2 separate regions of the Homo sapiens genome follow, and region 1 is linked to region 2. A link means that fine-mapping ties the variant in region 2 to the plasma level of a protein whose gene starts in the linked region. Region 2 holds a variant in brackets. A gene starts in the other region. All regions are shown on their forward strands.

Region 1 (15,913 bases), not on the chromosome of region 2:
CTCTTGAGCTCAGGAGTTCCAGACAAGACTGAGCAACATAAGGAACCCTGTTTTTAATAAATAAACAAACAAAAAACAAAACAAAAACCAAGTCACCCCAAACCTTAGCAACTTCACACAATGCACATCTATTATCTCATCACCTCTGTGCTCTGTGGATCAGGGATCTGGCCCTGCTTGGCCTGGGGCCCCTGGGCAATGAAGGCGTTGGCTGCGGCTGCAGTCATCTCAAGGCTTGGCTGGGGGAGGATAGGCTTTCAGGCTCACTCCTGCAGCTGTTGGCAGAAGCCACAGGTTCTCGCTGGCTGGTGGCTGGTGGAAACATCAGTTTCTTGCCACGTGGGTCTCTCCATGGAGACGCAACTGTCTTCTATTAGGTCAGGCGAGAAAGAGAAGTTACGGAAGAAGCCACAGTCTCTTTGTTACCTAATCTCAGAAGTGACATCCCATTCTTCATGTTGTACTGTTCTGTGTCCCTTAGAAGTGAGTCTCTGGGTCTCACTCACACTCTAAGGGAGGGGGTTACAGAGGGTATGAAGACCAGGAGGTTGGGGATCTCTGGGGGCCTTCTGAAAGCACTGCCCACACAAATAGAGAAGGAAGGAAAGCAAATGTAAGGTGACATTGGCTGAGTGCAGTGGCTCATGCCTGTAATCCCAGCACTTTGGGAGGCTGAGGTGGGTGGATCACTTGAGGTCAGGAGCTCGAGACCAGCCTGACCAACATGGTGAAACCCCGTCTCTACTAAAAATACAAAAATTAGCCAGGCATGGTGGTGTGCACCTGTAGTCCCAGCTACTCGGGAGGCTGAGGCAGGAGAATCATGAAGGGCAGGGCTCTGCAGGAAGGTTGACTTATTTGGGAGTGTCTTAGTTTAAGTTCTCTTGAACCGGAGACAGATATTCCAGTATTAGTGGCTGATCTTGGAGACAAACCCAGGAAATGTCAGTGGAGAGTGGGGAAGTGATACAGAAAAAGTAGAAGTCAGTGACCACCTCTGGCAGTAGGTGCTTAATCCTCCTCCCACAGAGAACTCCAAACAGGTTCTCTGTTTGGAGAACAGAGACACATGCCACCTATGACTCAAGGGAGCTGGGTGTTTGTTTTATTTTATTTTATTTTATTTTATTTTTGAAACAGAGTCTTGCTCTGTCACCCAGGCTGGAGTGAAGTGGTAATTTCAGCCTTGACTTCCCGGCTCAGTGATCCTCCCATTTCAGCCTCCCGAGTAGCTGGACTACAGATGTTCACCACCATACCCGGCTAATTTTTTTTCTTTTATTTTTAGTAGAGACGAGGTCTCTCTTTGTTGCCCAGGCCGGTCTCGAACATCTGAACTCAATTTATCCTCCCACCTCAGCCTCCCAAAGTGCTGGGATTACAAGTGTAAGCTGCTGCACCAGGCGTGAGCTGGGTCTTTAAATGCCAACTCCTGGCCAGGTGCAGTGGCTCACACCTGTAATCCCAGCACTTTGGGAGGCTAAGGTAGGAGGATTGCTTGAGGCCGTGAGTTCAAAATCAGCCTTGCAAACATAGTGAGACTCTCCATCTCTACAGAAAAAAAAAATTATTTTAATTAGCCAGACATGGCAGCATACTCCTGTAATCCCAGCTACTTGGGAGGCTGACGTGGGAGGATCGCTTGAGCCCAAGAGTTTGAGGTTATAGTGAGCTATGATCATGCCACTGCACTCCAGCCTTGGTGACAGAGCAAGACTCTGTCTCTATTTAAAAAAAAAAAAAAAAAAAAAGCCAGCTCCTGTCAGATGTTGGTTGAGCACTGCTCAGGTCAATGTCAATTCCCCAGCACTTCCTGCCGGCCCCAAGGAGCTGAGTGGGCTGCGGCTGCCAGAGAAAGTTCTTAGGCAGAAAAGTGCAGTGCTGCTGGATGAAAGGATTGATGTGTGCTGAAGATCAGGGGCTACGGGCCTCTGCCGTGCCCGAAACGGGACAGCTAGAGGCAGGAGAGTGGGAGCCAGTGTCCAAGGGCAGATACTGAGTTTGGTTCTAGAAACGCTTAAGGCAGCTGTATGGGGCAGGCTCCAGACCCCAAGGGAAAAATGGATCACTTGGTGGAATAAGACTGATTATTTAAGCTAAGGCAGTGGATGAAAAATCCTAGAGAGAGGCTGAGATCTACAACATGAACAAAGACAAATGGCCAAGTTCATGTCATGGTTTAGACCCAGCTCTGCAGGAAGAGAAATGCATTTTTTTTCCTTGCCACAAATCATTCTCAGAAAGGCCAAAGCAGGTGGGGCACGGTGGCTCATGCCTGTAATCCCAGCACTTTGGGAGGCCGAGGAGGGCGGATCACGAGGTCAGGAGATGGAGACCATTCTGGCTAACACACTGAAACCCCGTCTCTACTAAAAATACAAAAAAATTAGCCGGGCGTGGTGGCGCACACCTGTAGTCTCAGCTACTCGGGAGGCTGAGGCAGGAGAATTGCTTGAACCTGGGAGGCAGAGGTCGCAGTGAGCCGAGATCGCACCACTGCTCTCCAGCCTGGGCAACAGTGAGACTCCATCTCAAAAACAAAACAAAACAAAACAAAACACAACAACGAAGGGTCAAATCAGCCATAAGAGGGAGGGAGAGGGGCTCAGTGTTCCTTGAGACTATCCCAGGTGCAAAATCACGGACATGAGATGAAGCTTTCAGGCCCAACGTTGTCCTGACTTCTGTGACTTCAACACTGAAGACCTGAAAAAAACCAGTTCACTCTCTATTGAAGCTTCTTGCAGCTCTGAAGCCATGGACTAAATCTCCTCAGTCTGTTTTCACCAACACGTCTTTCTGGAAAGATTAAAATAACAAGAGTCCGGGTGTGGTGGCTCACGCCTGTAATCCCAGCACTTTGGGAAGCCGAGGCAGGCAGATCATTTGAGGTCAGGAGTTCGAGACCAGCCTGGCCAACACAGTGAAACCCCGTCTCCACTAAAAATACAAAAAGATTAGCCAAGTGTGGTGGTACACGCCTCTAGTCCCAGCTACTCAGGAGGCTGAAGCAGGACAATTGCTTGAACCAGGGAGGCAGAGGTTGCAGGGAGCCAAGGTTGTGCCACTGCACTCCAGCCTGGGCAGCAGAGCAAGACTCTGTCTCAAAAAATAATTAATAAATAAAAAATAAGATAACAAGCGTAAGGCTGGGCACAGTGGCTCACACCTGTAATCCCAGCACTTTGGGAGGCCAAGGTGTGAGGATTGCTTGAGCCCAGGAGCTTGAAACCAGCCTGGGCAACCTGGTGAAACCCCATCTCTACAAAAAATTAAAAGTAAAAAAAAATTAGCCAGGCGTGGTGCATGAGCCTGTGGTCCCAGCTACTTGGAAGACTGAGGTGGGAGGATTGCTTGAGCCTGAGAGGTTGAGGCTGCAGTGAGCTGTATTCATGCCACTGCACTCCAGCCTGAGCAACAGAGAACTCTGTCTCAAAAAAAAAAAAAAAGAAAGAAAGAAAGAAAAAAAAAGTGTCTATGGAGATAAATCATTTGGCAGCTTCTTTGGGAGACAAGGTTGGTAACGGGGAGTCAGGGAGGTTAAGGCCATGGCTACAGCTACGTGGGGAATGGTTAGGGAGGGCTGGTTTTAAGGGCATCTACATGCGGTGTGTGTACCACAAAGCTGCCTGCAAACACCAACCACGTGGAGAGCTTGATGAGATGTCACTCACTGGGTACAGCAGGCGGCCCGCTACCGCTACCCAGCTCCAACTGTCACATTTGGCTCCTTCGCAGGTCACTTTGGGGTCCTCTTTCCTTGCTTAGGGAAAGGACCCAAGTAACAGGATGTATGGTGTGTACAGCCTCCACCATCTGAGCCCCATTTATGGATGAGCCAGACTCATCTGCAGGAATTTGAAAGTGCTGGCTGGGTTTGGGGAGTATTTTGGGAGGGGTGTGTCCTCATCACCTGAGCAGAGGGGAAAGGCCACCAGCAGGCAGTGGCCCAGATGTTGAACTGAGTGATGCCACCAGGAGGGGGACCTCCATCCCACCCACAAGCCTAATTCACTGGCTTGGAAAAAGCTGGGTGGGACAGTGGTTAGGGGTACGGGTCCTCGAATCTTGGCTCTGCCACTTGCTAACTACATGACATTGACAAGTTATATATCTCTGTGCCTTGGTTTCCCCATCTGTAAAAAGAGGGATGTAAGAGTTTTAACTCCAGGCCAGGAGCAGTGGCTCAAGCCTGTAATCCCAGCACTTTGGGAGGCCGAGGCGGGTGGATCACTTGAGGCCAGGAGTTCGAGACCAGCCTGGCCAACATGATGAAACCCCATCTCTACAAAAAATACAAAAATTAGCTGAGGGTGGTGGTGCATGTCTGTACTCCCAGCTACTCAGGAGGTTGAGGCGAGAGAATCGCTTGAACCCGGGAGTCAGAGGTTGCAGTGAGCCGAGATTGCACCGCTGCACTTCAACCTGGATGACAGAGTGAGACCTGTCTCAAAAAAAAAAAAAAAAAGAAATTTAACTCCTTCATTGTTGTGAGGTCTATATGACTGTGCCTGGTACATGAATGAGGCCTTTATGAATATTAACTATTCTAATTACTCATTGCTCTCCCCGGTTTGGAAGCATTAGACATGACTCACAGTTGGTGGAAAAATAAGCTGCCCCTAAAACCTCTTTTTTATTTCTTTTATTCTCTTTTTTTGTTCGTTTGTTTTTTGAGATGGGGTCTCCCTCTGTCACCCAAGCTGGAGTACAGTGGCACAATCACAGCTCACTGCAGCCTCCCCGCTTCCAGGCTTAAGCGATCCTCCCACCTCAGCCTCCTGAGTAGCTGGGACCACAGGCATGCACCACTACACCCAGATAATTTTTTTCATTTTCATTTCTTGAAGATATGGGGGTCCCATTATGTTGCCCAGGTTGGTCTTGAACTCCTGGGCTCAAGCCGTCCTTCTGCCTCGGCCTTTCAAAGTGCTGGGATTACAGTGTGAGCCACTGTCCCTGGCCTAAAACCTCGTTTTTGAACAATTTTTTTTTTTTGAGATTATGGAGTTTCACTCTTGTTACCCAGGCTGGAATGCAGTGGTGCAATCTTAGCTCACTGCAACCTCCACCTCTCAGATTCAAGCGATTCCCCTGCCTCAGCCTCCTGAATAGCTGGAATTACAGGCACACACCACCATGCCCGGCTAATTTTTGTATTTTTAGTAGAAAGGGGATTTCACCATGTTGGCCAGGCTGGTCTCGAACTCCTGACCTCAGGTGATCCTCTGGCCTCGGCCTTCCAAAGTGCTGGGATTACAGGTGTGAGCCACCGCACCCAGTCTAAACAATCTTAATTGATGTCATTAGATATCCATAAATCCTCAGATGCACACTGGGTGAAAATGATAAATAACACAAAGTTCCACCCTCTAGGTCACTCTCATTCAAAGAAACATCTGATGAGAACATCAGAAAAGACTTGAGAGTGAAGTTCAAGGGCAGGAGTGTGGGGCTCAAGAGTCAGAGAGCACAGGCTCAAGAGTCACCTGGATCTCCGCTCAGTTCCCACACCAGCGCTTAGTCGCTGTGTGCTCTTGGATAGGACGCTTGGTTTTCCAGGGTCTCAGTTTTCCCGGGTCTCAGTTTTCCCATTTGGAAAATGGACATAATAATAGTGGACCTCATGGTGCCTTACCCCTCAGCTGAGCTGGAATTATAAATGGCATTGTGAGAAAGCGAATGACATGAGGCCCTTCCCAGGAATCTGAAAGGAGAGGAACTCAGCACTGCGGAGGCCTGGATTGCAGGGTGTGTGGGAAGGGGACCCATAGGAGAGACAGCCTCCCCACTGGTTAAGGCAAAGAGAAGAGATGATGCAGCCCCAGGGGAGGGGCACCCTGGAAAGCTGGGCTGATTGCCAGACCCCTCTCACTTTGTGGGTTGGAGTTTTGAAGGCTCCTTTGCAGGATGACCCCAGGAATTGGAGTTTCAAAGCTGATATTTGGGGCAGGATGGAGGGCTCACCCCGGTATGGGAATGTAGATGAGCCACACCCACACACACTGCCCCCAGTCGTTGACATTTTAGCTGAGACCTGAAAGCAATAATCCCCAGGGAGAGTGCTTTAATGGTGGAATTCCAGGCAGAGCAAGGACGAGTGGAGAAAACGGCTGGATACGTGCCCTCAGGTTGCACACGTATCCTGCCCTGCTTTGAAAAGCAGTTTCTCCCAAGTGCCTCAAGTGCTTGAGATATTCAATAACATTTCAGAGCATTAAAAACTCTGAAAGAAAAGAAAGCCTGCTACCTCTGAGGCCACATCCTCATCCCACCATGAAGATGCCTTGAGATCACAGGGCTTTGTGGTTTTAGTTGGGTTGGTTTCTTTGAAATGAGGGATTATTTTTAATGCGCCAAGACAAATCAGTTTCAAAAGATAAAGCTTATAATGTTGACTTTATTTCACCGTGGAAATTTTGTGCTCAAAGGTAAGAAACCATCTTATATAAAACAATCAAATAAATACATAAATACATTAAAAAAATGAGTCACTTCAAAGGCGGCCACAGGGTTGAGGAAAAAGCCCCTTGTGGAATCAGAAGCAGGTGTCTGCAGCCAGGACTTCCTCTTAATGCCGCCTCAGCACTGTCAGGGAAAGAGAGAGGGTGATGATGGTTAGGGTGGGAGATGGAGGCAGGGGCTGAGCTTACCTCATCGTGTGCCACCCACCACCCTGTTAGTCATCAGACGTTTGAGGCTTAATGCAACTCTCTGAGCCTCAGTTTCCTCATCTGTAAATTGGGGATTATCATTGCTCTGGTGATCCTGCTCTCTGCCTTTGAGACTATAGACAGTTTAGAGGAAACCAGGAGGAAATGTTTGGTTCTCTTTCTGCACCACTGGGGGGCTGCCAAATGATAAACAGACCCCCAAAGGAGATTCTGCCCCTTTGATAAGAAGTAGGAGGTGGGGAGAAGGTATTGTGGGCATGGTAATGAAATAAGCCCACATTTACTAATTCCACAAAGGCACCCCTTGGCCCTGAAGGCTGTTAACAAGAGGAAGCGATGTCCAGGTGACCTTTTCTCAAAGAGTGTGGTTCCCAGAGACAACAAACCCCAAAGTGACTCTAACAGTGTCACACACTGGAATGGGGGAAGGCGGCCGGGGTGGCAGGGGGTGCTTACCTTTGCAGCCCAGGCCACTGGAGGAGCTGATCCGGTCCATCTTCCTCCCAAAGCAGCCAGACCCTTGCACCATCTTGGGGCTTCGTGGTGCCCGCAGGGTGTAGAGGACCATTTTGCGGTGCCCACGGATGCCCTCGGTGGCTACCTCCCGGGACTTCCAGACACCTGTGGGACGGGGGCTCTCCTGGAGGGGCTCCAGGGATGTCTGCTCCACCTGCAGCTCCGACAGTTTGCCCTGCAAATGGTTGCGCTGCTCCTGCAATGAATGGGGGCGTCCAAGCCTCAGGGACCCACCCCTGGGCTCACCAGCCCTTCATGGCACCCAAGTGAACCGACTGCCTTGGGTACAGGGTCAGGGCACCCAGTCTCTCCATTTTCTGATTCCTTTATCACTAATTCCAAAGGAAAGATGAGGGCCTCTTGGGACAGCAGGTGAGGACCCTTTCATTGCTGCTGTCCAATCCCCCTGAGCTGCCCTCCGCTCTCACCTGTAACCCGGACGTTTCCAAGTCCGAGGCTGAACCGGGGCTGCCCAGCGGGTGGGAACGACCTCCCAGGAAAGCCAGATGCAAGAAGAGCAGGAGCAGGAGCGCCCGGGAAGGTGCTGTCTGGGGATCCATGTCTCTGGAGGGACTGCGGAGGCTGCTGCTGCTGCTTCTGCTGCTGCTGCTGCTGCTGCGATGCGTCCGGGTTTGCTTCCCACCTGCCCTCAGCCTGCGGGGTGCTCCTCCTGGCTCCTCGGGACACCGTGGCCTTTTATCCTGGAGCTGAGTGTCGGGCCTGCCCTGCCATGCAGGGTTATCTCTGATTTATCAGCCACATTCCGGGCCTCTGAGATCAGGGCCCGGGAATGAGCCCCTCCGCGCCTGCGACGTGGGAGGTGGAGACCGGGCAGAGCCGACCTTGTATAGAAATGGGCCGGGTCGGGCCGGGGGGCAGGAACGCGCTGGAGACACAGACAAGTCCCCGTCTCCCGCTTCTTCCTTTCCTGCAAATGTCCAGGTGTCCTAGGTTGGCGCTTTCTTCCTGCCTCCCCACCCCACCGTTGCTGGAAAAGGCAGGGAGGACCCCGGCTTTCCGAGGACCGACGTGAGCGCGGGGAGCACGGGGTGACTCACAGCGAAAACAGCCCCGGCCAAGACCCCGCCACCCGCGGCGCCTCTCCCCTCCCCGCGCGAGTTCCCTGGCCCGCACGTAGCGCAGCACCTGCTCGCCGCTGTGCACCCTGCCTGCCTGCGGGTCCTCGGGGGCGCCCTGGCCGCTGTCCGTGGTGCTGATCACCCCGAGGGAACTTGGAGCAAACTCTCAAGAGCTGCTCTCTTCAACGGGATTTTCAGGCCAGAAAGACCTGCGTGGAGCAAGGACAAGAGACCTCCGAGACCTTTCCCTATGCTCTCACAATCCGCCATCTTATAGTCCTTACAGCAACGGGATGCTGATTCCCCAGTGGCAATTCATTAAAAGCCTGGGTATGACCAGGAACTTCTGGAATGCTGACCCTTCTTTCACTCCTTAAAGGGAAGAGCAGATTTCGCTGGAATTTTGAGAGATAGGGTCCAGTGATGACGAAGTCACCCAAGAATGCCTTATATGTGTGTCCTCCACGTGTCAACACCTCCTCTCCCCCACCAAGCCAACACAGGATGGAAAACAAAAGGATAGGCTGGGCATGGTGGTTCACGCCTGTAATCCCAGCACTTTGAGAGGCCGAGGCGGTCGGATCACGAGGTCAGGAGATCGAGACCACGGTGAAACCCCGTCTCTACTAAAATTACCAAAAATTAGCTGGGCATGGTGGCAGGCGCCTGTAGTCCCAGCTACTCGGGAGGCTGAGGAAGGAGAATCACTTGAACCCAGGAGGTGGAGGTTGCAGTGAGCTGAGATCACGCCACTGCACTCCAGCCTGGTTGACAGAGAGCGAAAAAAGAAAGAAAGAAAGAAGGAAAGAAAGAAAGAAAGAAAGAAAGAAAACAAAAGGATGGCTGGAATGATGGTTATCTATTTGCTGGGATACCAGAGATATGGGGATTTCCCCTCTCCCAGTGCCTCCTTCATCTGACCACCCATGATCTAATTATCATTAGCAGGTGGCCTGGTGATTAGAAGTGAGACTTTGGAGAGAAATGCCCCTGAGAAGAGTCATAGCAGCTTAAATACCCCCCTAAAGCATATATGACTGATGTCACTCCCCTTCCAGAGAATTGGTGTCAACAAGCAGCAGGCTGGAGGAGTGGAGCTGTCTATGAGGGGAGAAGAGTTACAGCAGAGAAGGGCAGCAATAAGAAACTGGGACCTCTAAGCAGATCTTGCCTAAAAAATAGCATCTGCCCCTGAGGTGAGAAAAGCACGGTTATTATTCCTCACTTCAGAGGAGGAAATGGTGTTCATGAATTAATCTACTTTCCAAAAGTCACACAATTGACACATGATAAATCCTGGATTCTAACCAGTCTGATTAGTCTAGCCAGCAGTCTGATTCCAGACCTGAAGCTCATAATCACTGCCAGGGTGATCACAAGGTGTTTCTACAAAAAGCAAGCTTAGGTGAATCCCGTGTCATCTATGAAGGCTCTGGGAGCTGTGCTGTGGGGGATGTGCAATTCTAGTGGTGACTGTGTGTGCAGGAGAAAGAATGGGAAGTGGCTCAGATGAGCATTTTGCAGATGAAATATAAATGGAGGTGGGTGGGTAAGGGCTGTGTAAAGACACCAGTGCTGGAAATGTTCTGGGGGGCTGGGGTAGTTTTGTGTGTGTGTGTGTGTGTGTGTGTGTGTGTGTGCGTGCACATGAGCATGCCACAGTAAGAGTATCAAAAGGCTAAGAGGAAGCTAAAGAGGTAAGAAAATTCAGCCAAGTGCAGAGGGGAGTCAGTGGGCGAGAGGCTGCTGAGGGTGCAGAAAGCCCCTCATGCTGAGTACCATGAGATAAAGGGTTCAGAGCAAGGCAGGATTCATCAACCAGCACCATCAAAAACTGACTCTGCATCTCGCCAGAGCCTCACTTTGCTCTTCGGCAAAATGGACAGTCCTTGCAAGGACTAAAAGGAAAAAAATAATATCTGCAAAAGCCCGTGGCACTGTATAAAGGGCCAAATAATTAGTAGTACATGAGAGTTGGTCTTTACACTGAAGGAGATTGTGATCTCACTGGGGAGACAAAGTGACCCCAAGTGAGACAATTAAGTGTCTAAGTGTCATACACTCTGACAGAGTTTCTATCTGTCCCCAGTGGAGGGGACTGTGGAAGAAGACTTGAGGAAGACACAGAACTAGACACATCCTCCAAGGCCTGCTGTCCAGGGAGGAGGATATGTTGTCAACTAACTCTCACACCAGATCAGCCCCATCAACATTTATCGAGGGCCTGTCATATGCTATGTGCTTTCCAAGTCTATTTAATGAAGCTAATCATAACACCTCTGTTGGAGCATTAATGTACAAGGATTAAATTTGATGATGTCTGTGGTAAGCTGAATAATAGTCCCCAAAAGATGTCCATATTCTAATCCCCAGAATCTGCGAATATACTACTTTACATGGTAAAAAGGACTTTGCAGGTGTGGTTAAGTTAAGGACCTCAAGGTGGAGAGATTCTCCTGGATTATTCAGGAAGGCTCAATGTCATCACAAGGGTCCTTATAAGAGGGAAGCCAGAGGATCAAGGTCAGAGGGACAAAATGTAAGGATGGGAACAGGTCAGAGAGGAGAGAAGAGACTACACTGCTGGCTTTGAAGATAGAGGAAGGGGCCATGAGCCAAGGAATGTAATCAGCCTCTAGAAGTTGGAAAGGGCAAAGAAATGGATTTTTCCCTAGAGCTTCCAGAAGGAATATGGGCCTGCCAATACCTTAGTTTTAGCCCAGTGAAACAGATTTCAGACTTCTGATGTCTGGAACTGTAAGAAAATAAAATCATGTTCTTTTAAGCCAACAAGCTTGTGAGACTTTGTTTCAGCAGCAATGGGAAATTAATAGAGTATATGTCAAATGCCAAGCATAGTGTCTCTCCCATAGTAAGCCCTCAGCAAATGTTGTTATGGTAGAAGTATTGGTTCCCCACCACCATCCAACTCTAAGTGCTTAATCTGGCCACACAGAAAGAAATAAGACCCTTAAGTCATTCAACAAACTTTCACCGAGACCCTGGGGTCACAGTAGCCCAGACCCAAGACTGAAATCACAGTCTGGGCTCAATTTCACATCAACTTCTTGCTACCTTTGTGTGTTGGGCAAGTTGCTTCCTCTCTCTCCTTGTTTTCTCATGGCTACCTCATAGGGTTGTTGTGAGCATAAAATGAGACTGTGCAGGTTAAAATCTAATATTTCTGCTGGAAGGTGGGGATACATAACGGACAAGAAAGTCCCTGCCATTGAGAAGCTTACAGTGCAGGGGGAAAGGTGGGCACAATCACAGGCTCCCCAGGCTGCCACAGTGAGTGACAGATACAGTGGCAGTGAGTCCTGGATGCTCTGTGAGCACAGCAGGAGTGCGCAGTCGAGAAGGGAGTTTGTTGGAGAAGGTGGGGCTGGGCTAAGGCTTTGAAGGATAAGAATGAGTTAGCCACAAGAAGGAAGATGGAAGATGGGGAGGGCACTCTGGGCAGAGCAGATGCACAAGCAGAGGCTAGAAGGGCTGGTTAATGGATCAGCTACCACCCCTATGCTCTCTGCAGAAGGAAGAAGCTGTGCAGAATACAAGGTTTGACTAGTCAGAGAGTAGGACTCCAGCTGCAAGATTTTTCTGTAGCTTCCCTCTGGCCTCAATCTCCAGTCTAGTCCTGGGCAGCCAAAGTGGATGGTATGAGAGCACTGGGCACCTGGGGGAAGCAAAGGAGGAAACAGAGGAGCACTGACCCAGGAGGCAGGAGGCAGGCTCGTCTCTGCCCGTGGCTGACTCACGGTGTGGCTCTGTTCCAGGGATTCTTTTTTTTTTTTTTTAATTTTTTTGAGATGCAGTCTTCCTCTTTCACCCAGGCTGGAATGCAGTGGTGCGATCTCAGCTCACTGCAACCTCCGCCTCCTGGGTTCAAGTGATTCTCCTGTCTCAGCCTCCTGAGTAGCTGGGACTAGAGGCACGTGCCACCACACCCAACTAATTTTTTATTTTTAGTAGAGATGGGGTTTCACCATGTTGGTCAGGCTGGTCTCGAACTCCTGACCTCAGGTGATCCGCCTGCCTCTGCCCCCCAAATTGCTGGGATTACAGATGTGAGTCACCGTGCCCGGCCTGTTCCGAAGATTCTGCTCGGTTTGCTTCTCTGTTCTAGGATGGTTTCCCTTTGTGTAGAGTGAAAGGATTAGACTAAGGTTTCTGCCAGGCACAAAAGCCCTAGTTGTAATAAGTCAACTCACCCTATATATATACTATACACATTTTTTTTTGAGACAGAGTCTCACTCTGTCACCCAGGCTGGAGTGCAGTGGGGCTACCTTGGCTCACTGCAGCCTTGACTCCCCCAGGCTAAAGCAATTCTCCTGCCTCAGCCCCCTGAGTAGCTGAGACTACAGGCATGCACCACCACACCTGGCTAACTTTTAGAAATTTTTCATATTTTTTGTAGAGACAGGGTTTCGCCATGTTGCCTGGGCTGGTCTTGAATTCCTAAGCTCAAGTGATCCTCCTGCCTTGGCCTCCCAAAGTGCTGTGATTACTGCTGTGAGCCACCACGCCTGGCCAGCTTACCAGCTTACCCCATTTTATAGGTGAGATTGCTAGCTCCCACTTCCCCAGTAGTGCCTCTGTCTTCTGTGACCCTTAGACTTCCTCCAAAAGCCAGAAACCACCTGCATAGGGCCATCAGGCCCTTCACAGCTGTGGCAGACATGCAGGTGTGCACACAAGTGTGTGTGTGTGTGTGTGTGTGTGTGTGTGTGTGTGTGTTAGGGGGTGCTTTGGAAACCAGCATGGGTCTGTAGACCTTCTCTGCTCTTGAAGTAAATCTCTAGACATGGTTAACAGAGGGAGGGCTGTGCTTGGCAGCTTGAAAGAAAATAATTACTAATTCCCACCACTCAGTCTGGTGTGGTGGTGCACACCTGTAATCCCAGCACTTTGGAAGGCCCAGGTGGGAGGATTGCTTGAACCCAGAAGTTGAAAGCCAGCCTGGGCAACATCGTGAGACCCTGCCTCTACAAAAAAAAAAAAAAGAAAGAAAGAAATTAATTAAATAAAATAAAAAATAGCCGGGTATGGTGGTGTCACCTATAGTCCTAGCTACTTGGAAGGCTGAAACGGGAGGATCACCTGAGCCCAGGAGCCCAGGATCACCCCACTACACTCCAGCCTGGGCGACAGAGTGAGACCTTGTCTTCAACAATAACAACAATAACAACAATAACAAAACCAAAAACTTCCAACCCTCCATGTCCAGCCTCACCAGCAATTTCTGAGCATAGAAATTACTGTGTGTTGCCAGGTAATATTCTCTCTCTCTCTCTCTGTCTCCCCCGCCCCCCACTTCCTCCCTCCCTCCCTCCCCTTGCTTAGGAACAAGGGACTCTGAAAGGGTCACCTTATCCTTCCTACCACCTCCAGAAAGAACTGTGCTTCACCCATATTTTCCCCATCGCTGGCATTCTGGTGACAGCATTCAAGTCCCTGGATCCAGCAATGCCTGATGTCAATCTACTTTGGACTTTGCAGTTATGTGAGCCAATAAATCTGCCCCTTCGACCTCTTTTTCCCCAAAGCAACTTAATTAGATTTCTGTCACTTCCATTCTAAAGATTCTTAACTGACAGTCTCCAAAAGAAACTGCCTGCCTTTTTCTTAGAAATGTTTGAAAACAAGATATTTCAGCCCTCGATAACAGCCGGAGTCTCAGAGTCTTTGCAGACAAATGTCCTGAACATTGTCTGATTTAACTCTCTCCTTTTGTAATGTGAGTTAGTCCCCTTTGGTCAGACAAAAAGCAGAAAATGTGTTCAACAACCTTAAGGAGCTGGAGAGAAAAATCAGAAGCCTGGCTTTCTTCATGTCTCTCAACAGCAGGGGCATGGCTCAGCAGGTGTGAGGCTGCCGGAGAAAGGATAAGAGGTCCGTCCCAGAATCTCGCCCTATCACCCAGGCTGGAGTGCAGTGGTGCAATCTCGGCTCACTGCAACAAACCTCCACCTCCCGGGTTCAACAGAGTCTCATCCTCAGCCTCCTGAGTAGCTGGGATTACAGGCGTGTGCCACCACACCCAGCTAATTTTTGTATTTTTAGTAGAGACAGGGTTTTGCCATATTGGCGAGGCTGGTCTCAAACTCCCGGCCTCAAGTGATCCGCCTGCCTCAGCCTCCCAAAGTGCTGGGATTACAGGTGTGAGCCACTGCACCCAGCTGAAAGCATGGTCTTAAAATGAATGATGATGATGGGGAGTATTGGAGGAAAGGGGTGGGGGCATCTTCTTCCTCGTTAGTTTCTACAGGATCCATAATTTCCTCCTGTAGTTGTTTGCCAGGGCTGCAGTAACAAAGAACCACAGACAGGGGGCTTGAACAACAGATGTGTACTGTCTATCAGTTCTGAGGACTGGGAGTCCAAGATCAAGGTGTGGGTGGGGCTGGTTCTCCTGAGGCCTCTTTCTTTGGCTGCAGATGCCGTCTCTTCCTGTGTCCTCCCATGGTCTCCCTCTGTACATATCTGTGTCCTAACCTCCTCTTTTTTTTTTTTTTTCTGGATACAGAGTTTCACTCTTGTCACCCAGGCTGGAGTGCAATGGCGCAATCTCGGCTCACTGCAACCTTCACCTCCCGGGTTCAAGCGATTCTCCTGCCTCAGCCTCCTGAGTAGCTGAGATCACAGGCGTGCACCACTACGCCCGGCTAATTTTTGTATTTTTAGTAGGGATAGGGTTTCTCCATGTTGGTCAGGCTGGTCTCAAACTCCCGACCTCAGGTGATCCACCCACCTCGGCCTCCCAAAGTGCTGGGATTACAGGCACGAGCCACTGTGCCTGGCCTCCTCTTCTTATAAGAACACCAGTCATATTGGATTAGGGCCCACCCTAATGACCACATTTCAAAGTATAGGTTGGTGCAAAAGTCATTGTGGTTTTGGCCATGAAACGTAATGGCAAACTGCAATGATTTTTGAACGAACCTGATAATTACCCCTTTAAAGGCCCTGTCTTCAAATATAGTCACATTCTGAGATACTGAGGTTAACTTTTTTTGAGATAGGATCTCACTCTGTTGCCCAGGCCGGAGGACAGTGGTGCAATCATGGTCCACTGCAGCCTTGACCTCCCAGGCTCAAGCAATCCTTCCACCTCAGCCTCCTGAGCCGCTGGACTACAGGCACACACCACCACGTCCAGCCAATTTTTAGATTTTTTGTAGAGACAGGGTCTCCCTATGTTGCCCAGGCTGGTCTCGAACTCCTGGGCTCAATCGTTCTTCTTGCCTCTGCCTCACAAAGTGCTAGAATTACAGGCGTGAGACACCACACCCAGCCAGATTTCAACATACGAATTTGGGGGGACACAGTTCAGTTTGGTTCATTACACCCCCTTACTCCCTCATTTCTGTTCATTGCCACATCTCCAAGGGCCACCACCACTCTCTATTGTTCTGATGATTTTCAATGTCCAACAAACCGCCCCAAACTTAGTGGCTTAAAAGAACAATCACTTGATTGTATCTCGTGGTCCTAGGGGTGGATGAGGCTCAGCTGCATGACTGTCACTTGGGGTCTTTCATGTGGTTGTAGTCAGATGGCGGCTGAGTCAGGAGTCACCTGAAGATTTCATCCATGCCTCTTACCTGGGCTGCAATGGCGAGGACAGATGGAGGCTGGTCC
Region 2 (15,913 bases):
CTGGGATGAAAAATTACTTCGTAAATTAATCTAGAGTTATCAGTCCAGCTGCTTGGGAATTATAGGTTCTGAGAAGCTTAGGTTAAAAAGTATTCTAGTGCACAACACAGACATGTCAGAGTTTGGGGAAACCTTGGTTGGCACAATGGGAGAACTTTGTACAGATCCATAGTTAGTGAATGATTGTGCTGTAATTAATTTGCTGAACTTGAATCTTGTTGGTTGGTGATGAGATTATTAGAATGTTTCTTTGCATTTTAATAATGGAAATCCCCAAATTCTTGACACATATTCAAATCACCTTTAAAAAAATCTGTATTTGCTTGTTTTTTTGCTATGATAGAAAAATGTTGTAGAACACTTCTGAGTTTGAACATAATTAACAGGATAAATGTTCTTGGAAAGAAAGGAGGAAGGCAAGCAGGCAGGCTGGCAGGCATAAAGTAGAATAGCTAGTTTTAGAATAAAATGGTTTCCAGTGTTAGCCATAAAAATTAGTACCACTGTGACAGAATTGGAATTTGGACAGCCTGCATTTGAATTTAGATTTAGGACAGTTTGATACTCTCTAGAAATCCTCTATGATGTATCATTTTTCTCTGAGTTTTAAGGGTCAGATCTCCAAAGGACAGTTGGGTCTCAGCAAATGCTGTAGGCTTAATATCAGGAAGGTGAATTCTGCAAGGTGCTGTATTGCTGATAGTATAAGTGGAATATTGCCTGAAAACACTTGTGCCAGAACCTGAAGTGGTACTCATGATAAGTCATCAGGGAAGGTGAACCGATCACCATTTCAGCAGTAATTAGTAATAGGTCCAAGAAAAGTGCATAAGAAAATGACCTAGTTTCTTCTATATAGATTTATATGGAACAAAACAATTTCTCTCTCTCTCTCTCTATATATATATATACATATATATATATATACATATATATATACATATATATATATACATATATATATATATACACATATATATATATATATATACATATATATATATATATTTTTCAGGAATAGTGAGGAATCAATAAAGTTATGGTTTGAAAAACTTTTGCAGAAAAGATGGTTCAGGCAAATGGTGCTGACCTTTACTGATCTTGTTTTGATGGTTACATTGCTGATGGGAGTCTGGTAATATTATTTATTGATGGTAGCTAATAATGGTCAATAATTTTGTTACATGAGAGAAAAGAGAAAACAATTGAATTTTCCTTGTAAAATCGCTGTGTAAGTCTGTGATACATTTTTCAGTTTTACAGTTAAAATATTTTAAGGCAGTGTCACAATTGTCAAATGCCAATTGCTTTGATAGTATTTCAGTTTTTTTGTGTGTATCTGTGAACAACTCTCTAAAGGTTAATAACCTGTTTTTTGGTGTTCACACACACACACTTAATATTATAGAGTATCTAATACTTCATGTTCAACCCTTTTCTCCCATTATTTTTTTTGTTTGTTGTTTCTTTTGTTATTCCATCTGGTTTTGAACTGGGTATATATTATATTTTATATATATATATTATACACACACACACACACACACATATATATACACCCAGTTATATAATAAATAATTATGATCAACAATTCTTACAAATGGAAAAAAAGAATCAGGGAGCTGGCCAGCTAGACTGCAATTCTATGATTAATCCTCCAGATTCAGAAATCTCATTTAAGGAAGAGTATGAGTTTGGGATGCAGTGGCTGGACTGATGAGTCTGACATTCACTTTGATGTTCTTTGACTCTTGGTTTGGAAGTTTTCATTTTGGAGAAATAAGAACAAGGAGGTTCCGGTATGGGATGTTACTAAGGTACGTGTTAGGGGATTTGTTGTTTCTATACTGTGGTTAGTACCAATGTACTTTATGTAGAGAAATAATCTCTTATGTATTACAGGAGGTGAAACAGATGTTAACAGCATATTGTTCCTACTCTCCTAAGAAAGAAACATGATTACATTTTGAATGAAGGATTTTTAGGTTAGGGTCTATAGGCTTTGAAGAGTTTGTGAATATCCACACATTTAATGGAAAATTTTATGTATTCATGAATTTTTCTAGGAAATGGTTTTCATGAGCTTCTCAATGGGCTTTACAGCCCTATCAGAACTTTAAGAGGACTCTAAGGAATTGCTATATAGACATCTATATGATCACTTATTACATTTTAAAAGGTAACAATATAAAATAGGAACAGTTTCATTTTTATTTGCCAAAATGATTTTTTTGAAAAACATAAAGTCAAGTCATATCACTTCACCTCTCTTCCAGTGGACATCCCTTTGCAAATTAATACCTAAACTTTTGATCATGGACTACCAGATCTGTTCCTTATGTCTGACCTGATCACTAAGCATACTATTGTTATGTAGCACTTCCCTATCCAACTCCTACCCATAAACCACTTGCAGTCACTACATTTTATCTTTATGGGTCTTTGTTCTGTTCCGTAATCATGCCAAGCTGCCTGTCTTCCTGTTCTTTTCCTAGATTTCCGTATGGCTGGCTTCTCATTCACTTCTTACTTCACATGTCAATTGTTCAGAAAGGTCTCTTTTAGCCTTCCCATTTAAAGTTGCCTCAGTTTGCTCTCCAGCCCATAACTTACGTATTTGTTAGATTATTTACTTGTTTATTAGTTGACTTTGTACTAGAATGTAAGCTCTCTGGGTGTGTGACCTAGTCTTGTTCACTTCTATAACTACAGTTGCTAGAAAAATACCAGGCACATAGCAGATGCTCAAAGAGTAGTAGATTAATGAATGAATGAAAAATTTTTTTAAAAACCCACATAATTTCCTGTGATATATTTTTAAACAATTTTGCCCCAAGAAAAGATTGTTACCTATATGTGTTAAATTTAACTTACATGAAAACTTCATTTAATATTCAATAAACAAACATATAGTAAGTACTAATTTTGTGTACCATGTTAAGCCATGGGGATGGGGCAAATACAGACCATGGTCTCTCCCTTCAATTAGTGCATTACATAGTAAGTACACTATGATTTAATCTTGATAGATAGAGGTATAAATTGCTGTGGGCATTGAGGTTCATAAGCGCGTCAGGTTAAGCCTCTAGGATGAGGTCCTATTTCAGCTGGGTATTGAAGGAGGAGTGGGAGATGTAGTCATGACAAGAGGGAATTGTATCCTGGCAGAAACAATAGCTTGGCCAAGAGGTTAAGGAGCATGGTATTTTCAAGGTCCAGTGAATAGTTGTGGCCAAAGATGAAACTATGTGAGTGACAGAGCATGCATCTTGAGAGCTGATTTGGGGCCAAACTTTTAAAGGGCTTTGTGTGCCATGTTGAAGAATTTGAACTCATCCTTTAGGTAATTGATGGTCATTGCAGATTTTGAAAAATAGAGCCTGATCAGTGTATTTTGTATTTGCTTGATAATTGCTTTGATCCTACCAAATTCCAATTTGGAAATGGAAGAGGACAAAAAACAAAACAAAGCAAAACAACAACAACAACAACCTCTGAGCTAACAATGGGCTTCAGTTAACTTTCATTTTGTGAAGTTTAACAATTATTATCTTGAATTCAACCTTAGACCTTCTGTGCTACCCTCTAACTTTTAGATACGGATTTAATAACAACATCGTAGCTGATGGCTAAAACCATCACTCAGTGCTTTCAGTAGTTTAGTATGAATATTTTATTGAGGCTAGACAACACATGCAAAAATGAATGAACAGAGCAGTATCTTTTTAATTGAATCTGTTTGTGCTTAACTCATGAGATCGTCTTTGGTAGTAGCTTTCCATTCATTCATATGCATTAGCTTAGTTTTATAGCTGCCTATCGAGAGGCAAAAATGTTCACTAGCAAGAAGGCAAAGTAATTGTTACTGGGATTGCCAATTGTTGCAACCTCTTTGAAAGACAGTCTGGCATTTTATAGCAATTAAAATTGCACATATACTGTTTGACCCAGCAATTCTACATATCCCATAGAAACCCTCATATGTGTGCTCATTACAGCATGGTTTCTGATAGCAAAAAATTCGAAGTCACCTAAATGTCCATTAATAGGGGATGGGTTAAATAAAATTATGGTATAACCCTCTCAGGTGTTGTAAAGGGTAAGACAGATGTGTTCATGCTGATATGGAAATATCTCAAAGACTCGTAAAATGAAAAAAAATCAGTATGGCATGTACCTATTTGTAATGTTTTTGAAAAGAAAAATGAATAGATATTAGATATGTTTTTCATAAAAATTTTTGAAAAAATATGCAAGAAATTGTTGATGGTTTCTTTGGGAATGAGGTCTGAGAGTTTATGGTAGCACATAGACTCTTTTTTCACTGTATGCCTCTTAATATTGTTTTCAGTTTTTAACCAAATATAATTTTAATAAGTTACAAATTAATACCAATAATTAAAAAAATAAAATGTATACATTGTGGAATGTGAATGTCAGTATTTTCATACCACTGCCATTACTGCTAGTAATAAACTGTGTGTGTGTGTGTGTGTGTGTGTGTGTGTGTGTGTGTGTGGTGGGGGGAGGGGTTTGGGGCCAGAAAATCAGGTAATATTGCCATTATAATTATGTTTTCAATTATTTGTCTTCCCTTAGGTTGTGTAGTTGAGAGGATAGAAGTGCTTTTGGGAGTTGGGAAGAAAGTAGGGCACAGAAAAATATTTTATGGAATATTTTAATATCTCTCTAATTCAGACAATATGGGAGAGAATAGCTATAATGATAAATGTTTCTATAGTTATCATTCAGTTTATATGAGAATATACCAAAAGTGAGCACTCAAGTGAAGATTATGCTCACTTTTACTTTAGAGAAAGAAATAATGCAGAGAAAAAGGTTTTAAATATATTACCTTTTAAAGTATAGTATTTCTCTACTCTCAGCAGCATAGGTCATGGGTGTATTATTAACCTCAGATTAATAGTGTATGATAGTTTGGTTTTAGATAAAAGTTCTATTCTTTAAAATTCAATGTATTCATTTAGGCCCTGTTATACAAAAAGTTTATCTCCACGATGTTGTTTTCCTGAGTTCAGAAATTTTTTTCTGCCCTGCCCGAAAGAGTTCATCTCTCACCCCTATCAAATGTTTTGCCTTCTGAGTGATTTTAAGATGCTTATTTTTATACATATTATTATATGCAGACATAGTTTTAAATTGGCCCTGGGCCCAATGTGTTGCTCTTTTTCGTACCTTATTAAGGATTTTTTTATCCTTGAAAGTCTTCCAAGCTATCTCAAGTGTTCTCGTGGGCAGTAGCAGCAGCAGCAGCAACAGCAGCAGAAGGAAATGAAGGAGTACATGGAGAGACCAAAGCTTAGAGTGTCAGTGGGGTTTGAAAGGATGCCCCTGAATAAAATAGAAAGGTTTTAATTCATAAATGCCAGCATAAATACCCCCTGATAATTATGACAGAGTGGAAAGAAAATTAAATATGTTGAATTTTTGTCAGATAATTTTGAAAGTGGACATAAGGTTAGGAAACAAATAACACACGGAGTTGAGGGAAATTATAATCCGAAAACAAATGAAATATTTGTTTCTCTCATTTGAAGGAACCTAGAGCCTAGGAACATTAATGCAACTTGAGAAAGGTTGTTTTTAACCGTGGAGTCTCTTAGCATTTTCAGCCTCAGTGGAATATTATAGGACCATAAGGTCAGTTTTATTTAATTCATTCTCATAGATTCTGAACAACCTAGGTAGTGCTGAAGATTTTATTGTATTTTGTAATTTACATTCTGAGTTTGGACAGAGGTGCTACAAGGTGTATGCTACTGTAAGTAAATTCATCTGATCAGTGGCATTATACAATGACTTTATGCAAATGGAGAACTAATTTTTTGGGAAAAAAGTTAATCTCTTGTGGTATGTCTTGCCATCAAGAATTCTATTCCTAAAGACCCAAAGAAGTAAAGGAAAGAATCAGAGGAAAATGAACCCAAAGTGCATCCAGTCCCTGGCTCCCATGTGGCCAGCTGATGTTCCAGCCATCAACTGTTGAAAAGCTACAAGTGGTTTTCA[T/A]GATGATAAAGTTAGTGGTCAGCACCAAAAATAGATCCAGAGCAAGGCCTAGTAGAATAAATTACTGAAGATGATCAAGTTAGAACTACCTCTGCTGAGAAGGCTACACAAAATTTCTGGGATAAAGAGTAATGAGGATTATTGATGTTACTAGGATCCATCTTCAGAATTGGTTGGCCTGCTACGTGCAGCGTATTCTGATCAAATGGTGCTGCCCCTCCCTAACCACCCTGTGGAAATGTATTAGCCCAGAGGTCTGACTGTCCTGAGAAATAGCGTTGCAAGCTATCTACTTGAAAATGAGGATGTAGGTAACTTACATGTTAACTTTACATTGCAAAATGCAGTGGCTGCCTATCCGATGGCATTTGAATGGATGTACGGCACAAAGTCATATATTTACGTTTTAGAAGGGGATTGAATTATACAATCATTCTTTAGAGAAGGGGTATTGTTATAATGTTTCAGAACTCTGGAGTCTTTCATTGGGGTTCACGTTCCTGCTCTGCCACTTCCTTGTGTCGTGTCCTTTTAGCATGTTATTTAATCCGTGACTCAGTTTCCCCATTTGTAAAGACGAGGTTATTAAGGAGAGCTTATATAAGGGCTGTTGAGAGGATTCAACGAGTTTACACATGTAAATCGTTTAGAACAGCACCAGGTATGCACTGATAAACTTTTCTAGATTATTAGTATTTTTGAGGTCAAATCCATGAAAAGAAATTGTTCTCTGGTAGTGGTAAATATCCTCAGGTATTTAAAATATAATTTTAAAGGTCTTTGGTTTGCATGTTTTAATTGACAAATATTTAAATGAAGTATTTTTTGGTAAATATTGTTTGTAGTTGACGTAAGTTTTATAAAAAGATCTTGTTGAATACTCTAATTGAATAATTTTGCTCAAATCACCCTAAAGTAATTTTAAAAGGAATAAATACTTTATTCCCAATGAGGAAAATATTTTGAGCTTCACTGGGAAACGCTTTATAAGATAGATTGATATTAAAATGTAATATACTCCACACACACACACACACACACACACACACACACACACACACAGACATATACATGCAGACATACACACTATATATATGACACACACATTATAGATGTAGATATAGATGTATAGATATAGATATCTATAAACCAGTAAATGTTTTTACAAACTCTGAAATCTGTTACAGATCACTTCGTCTCATTTTTTGGTATTAAATAACACAGGGTGCTTTGGTTATACTAACCATTACCAGAAAAAGTGAGTAGTTAGTTTTTGTTGTTTAGTTGTTGTATTTTTCCAGACGGTTCTGGAGTTAATACATAAAATTCCTTTAGAAAGATCCTGACTGGAGTATCTCAAAAGATCATCGAAGAAACCAGTTGGTGAAAATGCATTTGGATGACCTGAACACATAGTTGTTGTGTCTCTAAATCCCAGACATACTTTATTAGGACAATCCAGCTGGTTTGCTATTTCTATCTCATCATTATCAACACGTTATGGTATGGCCTCTTCCCCCTCACTTCCAATGCCAAGAATTTGGCAGGGACACCATGTTAGCAAGTCAGAGACTGGGGGTGGGGCAAGACAACAATAGTTTCACACTGCTGCAGGGGTAAGGAATATGTGTTTTCTAAACATTTTGCTACTGGGTTAAAATTGATAATAGATATTTTTAGTCTCTTCACTTGAGGAATTTGAAGAAATAAAATTTCACAAGTCTCTAGAAACCCTCTTAAAGAAACATTTTCTTTATCCTAGTTCACACTTTCATATACATAGAATTTGGTTGTAAATCTCAAAGTTTCAAAATTCTTTGCCTTTCTCCTCTTTCCCACCCTTGCCAATATTACAGAAACTCAAGAAAGTGAGAGAAAGAAAACTATTGTCCCTAGGTCTTATTTCATAGTTTACATTATGAATAATAAGTCAATAACTGAATATCATGTCACATTTTATTATTATGTGTGTGACCTTATTAGTGACCTTAACTATCGTCTTCTAATGTATTAGAGCATAGAGAGAACAGAGATGAAAATTCTTTTTGGTCATAGTTCATAATTCTTTTTGGTCATAGTTCATGTTTTTTTTTTAATTTAGTGAAATGAAAAATAATCAGATGAGGATTTTCCTGACAGTTTTATAAGACTGCAAATTTTGTGAGTGAGTTAAGCTCTTCCAAAGTTATATTACAACTTCACATAAATGTAGATTCTCAAAATGATAATGGTCATGTAAATGTTCTTCAGTTATAAGTATATATGTAATTTTGTGTGCTACAAATTGGTTTCTAACAGATCTCTTCCATTAGAAACTCTCTACATTCATTAGGATGACTCATGAAATATTTTCTGTACTTTGTTAAAAAGTTTTAAAAATAATCTCAAATTAAAATGATTTATTTACTTTTAAAAACTCATGAGTTATGCTTGTATAGCAACCTAAAGGTTTTTTATGATATCCCATGATGTTATTACAAAACATTAGGTTTTAATAAATAAAGGTCCACCTTTATTTTTCACTATGCATAGAGATATTTATGATAAAATGAGTTACTTATGACCTCTTCCTTCCAAATAGGGAAAAACTACATAATGATATGCTTTGTTCACATATATATTAAATTCTTTTTATTCTATTTGACTCTTTGATGCATCTCATACATAGGTCAGGCACCTGAAAGACAGCAAGTATGAACAATATCAGTAGAAACTTAGTCATTTAGAAATTGATACCTAGAGATCTTGTTTTATAATGCTCTTTTCTGGTCAGGAAAAATAAATGTTACTCTATAAGATAACTTTTGTTAAGTCTTTACTAGCTTATTTAAAATATAGTAATGGGTTTTCATTTTTAAAAGTCTCAGTTAAATAAGGCAAGAATTTCATAATCTGAGAAAGGAATAAAGCCATTAGTGAACAAATATCTGTCCACAGCTTTTAGTAAAGAGAAAAATATGTAACCTTTTGTGCCATTCACTAGAGCAGATTTGTGCCATCAGTACAGATGTGAGTAAAAACTCAGCTTTCTCTTAAAGCCTCAATTCCTTGAAGTTTTATCATCCCAAGGGAAATGAAAGAGTTGTCTGTATGAATTTGCATGTGTCTTACCTTAAGGTTGTAGTAAGGCATATTGAATATACTGGTAGGACATTGAGATTTTACTGTGGGTAGAAAAAAAGAAGAATGCAAATTAAAGTAGCAATGGTTTATTCACAAATTAAAGAAACAAATTGTTCCCCTGGGTGCTTCCTTAATTGATGAAGAGTAAATAAGTAGGACACTGTTAACTAGACCAGCAGAGTGGGGCAGGCATATCTCTCAGGACTGGGGTTAGAACCTCAGGCTTTCTAAGTGTGAGGGATTTGTAAATGAAGCTACTTTGTTACTGTCAGAATTAATATGTGGATAAAAATCTATGTTTTCAAAGCTCTTACAGCATTGTTTTGTATTCTTTATTTTTAAAAGTAGTTTTATGTTATTTTTGTACTATTAACATTCTACACTTATGACATTTCAGCCCCCTCACTACCGACACCGAACAATAGAACTGCTTCAATTAAGAAACAGAACATCAGCCCCTGGCATCTTATTCTGTTGTTCCATCTTTTTTTGCTAGGGAGAATTCATTTGTTTCTTAATTAAGAAAAACACCAATAGCATGAAAAATCTGCTTATGGTACCTGAATGGTAATTAGGCAAAAGGTAAAAAAGAAACATGCACATACATTCCAATAGCAGCCAAAATGAACTGGAGCTGATAAAAATGAACTACACTACCCTTGCATAAATGGAGGCTGAGAGAAGTGTACAGTCATTATGGCTAAGACAATATGCAAACTATCTTCAAAGAAATCAAATTGCTAGAGTGTTTTCATTTGCATGTATTAACTATTAACATAATGAGGAGAAGTGACATTGGACCCGGATTGTGTGTCTGTTCGGATTGATAATTCGACTGCATCTGCAAACAGACGCCCAAAAATCATGCTAGTAGTTAGATCAGAGTTGAACTCTGCAATGTGGGCTAAAACAAAATCTAGAGTTTGACAAACCTGCTGAGCTACTGAATGGTGAATGGTTGACATCTCTCTCATTCACGTTGTGTCTCATTCATATTCTCTCTCTCGCTCTGCTTTAATTTAATTTTTAAAAACAATATTCTTTTAGTCCAAAAACTTACTTTGAGCTTTAAAGCAGCAAAATTGCCCTTTGGAACTTCTTTGTTTTCGTTAGTGCGAGAATATAAGAATTGATGCCATAAAGGAGATCTTAAGGAATCATAGGGTTAACTTAAGGTCTGTTGTTACAGGATTTGAAAATATTGTATTTTCGTTTATTTCCAGCAAATATAAATCTAGGAATAAAGGAAACTGGCATTTATTGAGCTTCTCTTATGTGGAATGCACTGTACAAAGTGTTTTTCATGAAAGAAAATGGAAGGAGTCGTTGAGAAAAATGAAGGAGCCATTGCAATGAGAAACACCTCTAGCCTTTTAGATAACCTCGATGTTATCTAGACTCACTGAGCTTCTGGCTCTTAGTTTTTTCTCACCTGTAAAATGGGCCAGTATAACTACATTTGTGTTTCCTATTCTAAAAATCTTTGAGGTCAGTAGCCAATTTCAATGTTCTTAAAAGCCTTGGGGAAATTGGAAAATCATCACTCAGAAACGTACCCATAACAACAAAAATGCCTTATTTATTTAGGAGTCATGGGATTTATCACACAATCAGATTACATTTGCTATTCCATGCTGGTAAGAAACTCTGGCAATCATATACATTTTTGACTAATTTTAAGAAGATAAATCTGAAATACATTTCTTGATTGTAGAATTCCTACTTTTAATGTCCCTGAAAATCAGAATATAGCTTACTTTAAAAGCAATAAATCCATTTAATGTAGTTTTCTTTTTTTGTAAAAAGTATTGATGTGTCTTGTTAATGATGGAGACTTCTAATTAATAAATTTATTTTGTATAGTTTTATTTATATTAACAAGTACATATTTTGATCTTTCTTTGAATCTACCTGGCACTGTTCTATGTACAGAAGTCAGTGGTGCACTAGGAAGGTAAGATCTCTGCTTTCACAGAACGTACATTCTAGAGGTTGGCAACAGGCAATAAACACAATAACTCAGTGAATGTGCAATGCAATTTCAGATTGGCATAAGTATACGAAGAAAATAAAATAGGGTAACGTGACAAAGAGTAACTGTTGGGACTGCCTGACAATGATCTGTTAGACACAAATTTCCTAGACTTAATGCTGTTGATGGGAGACATAAATTAATATCTTTCTTTGAAAAATGGAGAGGAACCACTGTCAAGGGTGAGGGGACAAATGTCCCCTAGAGACTCTCATCTACCCCATCCCCTAATGGCCCAGCTGAACCATATTACCTTTTGAATGGTGTAAAGCCAGGAAAAAAGCAGATGTGTCAGAAATGGAGTTAAGTTGGGATAATGTAGTTACTAAGGTAGGTATAGAACATACCCTCGTGGGGCTTCCACTCTCTAAAAGATGCACAAATCCGTCCAAAATAATTATATTGGCTCTCAGGAAACTCAGTCCAATGCACTTTGATTTTTCAGACATGTCATTTATTTATATGATATTTGCATTTTCAACAAATGGAGAACAACGCAATTGCACTGACAATGACATGATTCTGTCCATATTATGGGAGTGAATTTCTATCACAAAATATTGCATTATGATATTATACAATATATGTAATATTAACAATGTAATACTTTATTATAATACAATAACATTAAAAATATATACTATTACTGTAAGGTAACAATGCAATATATATTATGCATGTGGCAATACAGTATGTATGTTACTGTAATGTTAACAATATAACATTATTGTTGATATATGCAATATTAACACAGTTGATATATCCTCATTTTATATATATATGTATTTCCCTGAATGAAAATTTGTGACTGATTAGATTAAGTGATAAGTACTGGCAATTTTTATTGACTTTCAATACTACTGTTGTAGTAGCAGTTGGTGAAACTTTTAGGGTTGAAGCCATGTTACTTCCCTTTTAACTTCATTTTAGATAACATGTATCACTGCTAATATCCTTGGATATATGTGACCTTAGAACCCTGTGGAGATTCTTGGGAACCTGTGGTGAACACAAAGCATCTAGAACATTCTGAAATGTTATAGTTTTGTACTCCAAGCTAAAAGTTCATTGGGCTTTTGTGGAATAATTTATTCACAGGTTGTTCATCTGGAGATGGCTAAGTTAAATGCCTGGGCATTTGCTAGTATTAGTGAATGTAAACCTCTGCTCAGGGAGAACGTGAGTTGGGCATAAAAGCAAAACTCCAGTTGCATAAAGGATTTTGATACTTCTGAAGATTTCTAATATGTGTCTTCTCAGATAGGAATAGATGAGTTGACAGTACTCTTTGAAGACATCTCTACACTTAATAATGCCTTATTGCTCTCTTTTCATGAATATGGAGATTATAAAGAAACCTGTTTCATATTTAAGTGATAAGTTAACCTTTCTGCCACATATGTTGGTTATAATGTCAAAATCTCCTTTGAGAAAGTCAAGTTGATGAGCTGTGCTGAATCATTCATTCAGATTCAGCCCACAAGGATTAAGAGGTGAAAGCAGGTATTGTCATATTCTCATAGAAATTACCTAAGAATTAGTTAGCACAGTTGCTCTAGGAGAACTCTTGAAGAATCCTTCTCTTGATGGAAGGGCACAACTGAGCACAAACTGGGTAATTTGAAATAAAAAGACTCAGAGCAGACGGATTCAAGAGGAATGTGTGAGACATTCGGATGCTCACTAACATTAATGGGACATTAATATTTTCACTTGGATTTGCCTATTTATCTAAAGAAAAGAAAATAAGCTATATAAGACAGCCACAGAGAAAAGACCAAAGAAACTCATAGAGGGGAATGCAAGTTCTTAACTTATATTTACTTTAAATTGAAAACAACAAAATTCTCCTAAAACAAAGCAAAAGAGAAAATATAAGAAAAAAAGAAAAGAAAAAATAAAACTTGCTTTCCCTTACCAATTACAATTTTGTTGATTCTGTTTGAAAGAAAAACATCTAATTTCACTTTTACAAACTATTATTTGTTTTTCTGGATATGAAAATAGCAACATATGACATAATAGATCTCTAGGTTTCTTAGTAAACTCTGTCCAATGCCTGTCATACTAAACTCCTAGGTCTGGCACATAAAACCAAAAAAAATAATAATAAGTATAACAATCTTCTGGAGGCAGACTCAAGTGCTTAAGGCTGAGAGGGGACATACTACATGCCTGAAAACATTGAGTTATTTTTATTTAAATGGCTTTTACTATGGTTCAGTGGGAAACATGAATTAACAAGATCAGGTTGCAAAGCTCTGTGTAGGCTGGAATGATACCCTAAAACTGTTGGTGAACATTTAATAACAATATAGATTTTGGTTTAAAAAATCAACTTTATTAAGTACAGGATGGGAAAATGAACTTTATTTGCTGCTAAAATGAAAACTTCATAGGTGTTTTAGTTAACTGAGTCTTCAGTGGAAGTTGCATTCCAGAACCATTCTGCAATGTTCAACAATTGACAGGAGTCCTGCTGTACTTTGTACTGGCCAGTCACATCTTGGGTATTGTGTTCAATGTCATATCCTCCTTAAAACTCAAGTATGTCTGGAGGTGAACCCCCAGGATAACAGTCAGGCAGTAGCTGAAGGAATTGGGAATGTTTAATAGGAGAAGAAAATTCTGGGTTTTTTAATGAGAGCTATATTCGGATATCTGGAGAACTCCTATAGAAAAGGAATTAGCTTTCTTCCTTGTAGGTCAGAAGGAAATAATTCCAGAGGGTGCTCTGGGTCTACATTCTACTCACTGAAAGCACTTTTGAGCTCAGCATCAGTAAAATAGCTAGAGCTGTTCAAAATGGCCCAGCCTTCTTTGAGGATAGAAGACTACCTTGTCACTGGAAGCATGGAAGCGAAGGTTTGCCTGGTTAACCACTTGCTACATTTATTATTTAGTAGATCCTTGGAATATAGGAAGTAATGGCAATTAGAAAGTTGGGGTAAAACAGGAGTAGGTTTCTGAGTGATTTAATATTCTAGATGGGCCCCAGAATGTTTTAAGTTTCTTTCATTCAGTTCAATTTTAGAAGGATTTAGTTGGTACCTATTGTATTAGTCCATTTTCACATTGACATACCTGAGACTGGGTAATTTATAAAGAAAAGGAGGTTTAATGGACTCACAGTTCCACATGGCTGGAGAGGCCTCACAATCATGGCAGAAGATGAAGGAAGAGTAAAGGGATTTCTTACATGCAGTGGGCAAGAAGAGGACTTGTGCAAGGGAACTCCTCTTTATACATCTATCAGATCTCATGAGACGTATTCACTATCACGAGAACAGTACAGGAAAGACCCGCCCCCATGATCCAATTACCTCTCACTGTGTCTGGCCCACAACTCATGGGAATTGTCAGAGCTACAGTTCAAAATGAGATTTGGGTGGGGACACAGCCAAACCATATCACCTATCAAATCCTTATTATCATTATTGTATAAGCAACAACCAAATCTTCTGGAAGCTAAACAAGCTGTCAGAACTCTCAAAGCCTTGGGAGGGGCTCAAGCAGTACGTTCAGCTGGTCTTATATTTTTACAAAATATGCAAAATTAAAATATTTTAGCTGCAATTTTTTAGGACTGCTAATTCTTCCCACTTTGACATTCCTTCTGCCACAATTCAGAATGACCACAGGCATTATTAGGTTCTTGGGAATATAATAGTCTGATTTTTAACATTTGTAATTTACTGAGATTTCTCTACATCGATATTTATTTTTATACACAGTATGTGTTTGTAATTTTGTATTCTCCTGTTATAGAGGGTCCCTAGTTGTATAAGCTTCAGATCCCACAATACCTGGGTCTATTTCTGTGTGCCCCCTTCATTTATATCTATATATACACATATATATGTGTGTGTGTATACATATATGTATATATAACATTTATATATATGCTATGATTCTAAATACCTCAAAGAGAAAGATGAATAAGCCATTGTCCTTTATATCAAGTTATGGACAATGTAATGGAGGAAGCTGAGGAGTTTTATTATGAATTCAATGATTTAGTTGAAGAAATCATTAAAACTAATATACAATACAATATTTTTACAACTTTATATGCGTGGACATTTTTAATGTTGAATAAGAAATAATTAAACAACAATAAGAAAGTTAAGACCAACAGTGACACTGAGCACTCAAATCCAAGAAGATCATATTCTTGAATTATAATCTAATAAATGTGTATATTATTCCTATGGCAAAGGTAAAAAGGCTGTGTAATTGTGTACATCTTATTGATTAGACAAGTAATGTATATATGAGGATGTCAATACACTTTTATATTTTAGTGATAAAACTGCCTTGACATCATAAGTAAGCTCATTTTGGTATCAAATCCGGTGAAGCCAGCTGACAAATTTTGAGGATCTTAACAGAAGAATTTTTCCCCTATCATAAATCAGTAATAATAGGTTACCGAATACTATACTTTCAGACAATCTGGAGCTTTTTCAGCATCTTTGACAAACTTCTTAGTCTTGTGCATCTTTTTGCCAAAGTTCAATTTTGTTCTTGTTTCCATCTTTTGGAAGGCAGAGATGTGGAGCATGATTCTGCGCTGACATATCTAGCTTATTCGTGATGTTCTTTTTTTTTTTTTTTTTTTTTTTTAAGTCCTGTGTTTCTAAGCTAACACAATCAAGAGGTGTGCCATGATTGTGATTTCCCTTGCACAGCAGCATCATTTCTACCATCAAGGGAAGTTCATGCTTCCTT

Direction of the effects. Alleles are on the strand shown, and positions count from the first base shown. The strength of an association depends on the size of the effect and on how common the allele is.
As copies of A replace T in region 2, the plasma level of the protein whose gene starts at base 7,862 in region 1 goes up (weak association).

Evidence for each region. PIP is the chance, under the fine-mapping model, that this variant and not a neighbour inherited with it causes the effect. The UK Biobank Pharma Proteomics Project read protein levels with antibody pairs (Olink). The fine-mapping took linkage between variants from a reference panel, not from the people measured, so its PIPs are less certain.
Region 1: it holds the start of NPPB, and the variant in region 2 is fine-mapped to the plasma level of the NPPB protein (UK Biobank, PIP above 0.99).

Annotation. Positions count from the first base shown.
Region 1 is chr1:11,851,084-11,866,996 of GRCh38, forward strand. NPPB (natriuretic peptide B) reads right to left here and starts at 7,862. Exons shown (of 3, transcript NM_002521.3): 1 at 7,619-7,862; 2 at 7,131-7,386; 3 at 6,381-6,588. The coding sequence starts at 7,750. The coding sequence ends at 6,572. RefSeq lists a silencer at 8,261-8,427.
Region 2 is chr8:105,329,642-105,345,554 of GRCh38, forward strand. All of the region lies in intron 1 of ZFPM2 (zinc finger protein, FOG family member 2), which reads left to right. Among named protein-coding and RNA genes, the nearest start is that of ZFPM2, 19 kb to the left of the region's middle. The variant T/A (reference allele first, on the strand shown) is at 6,028.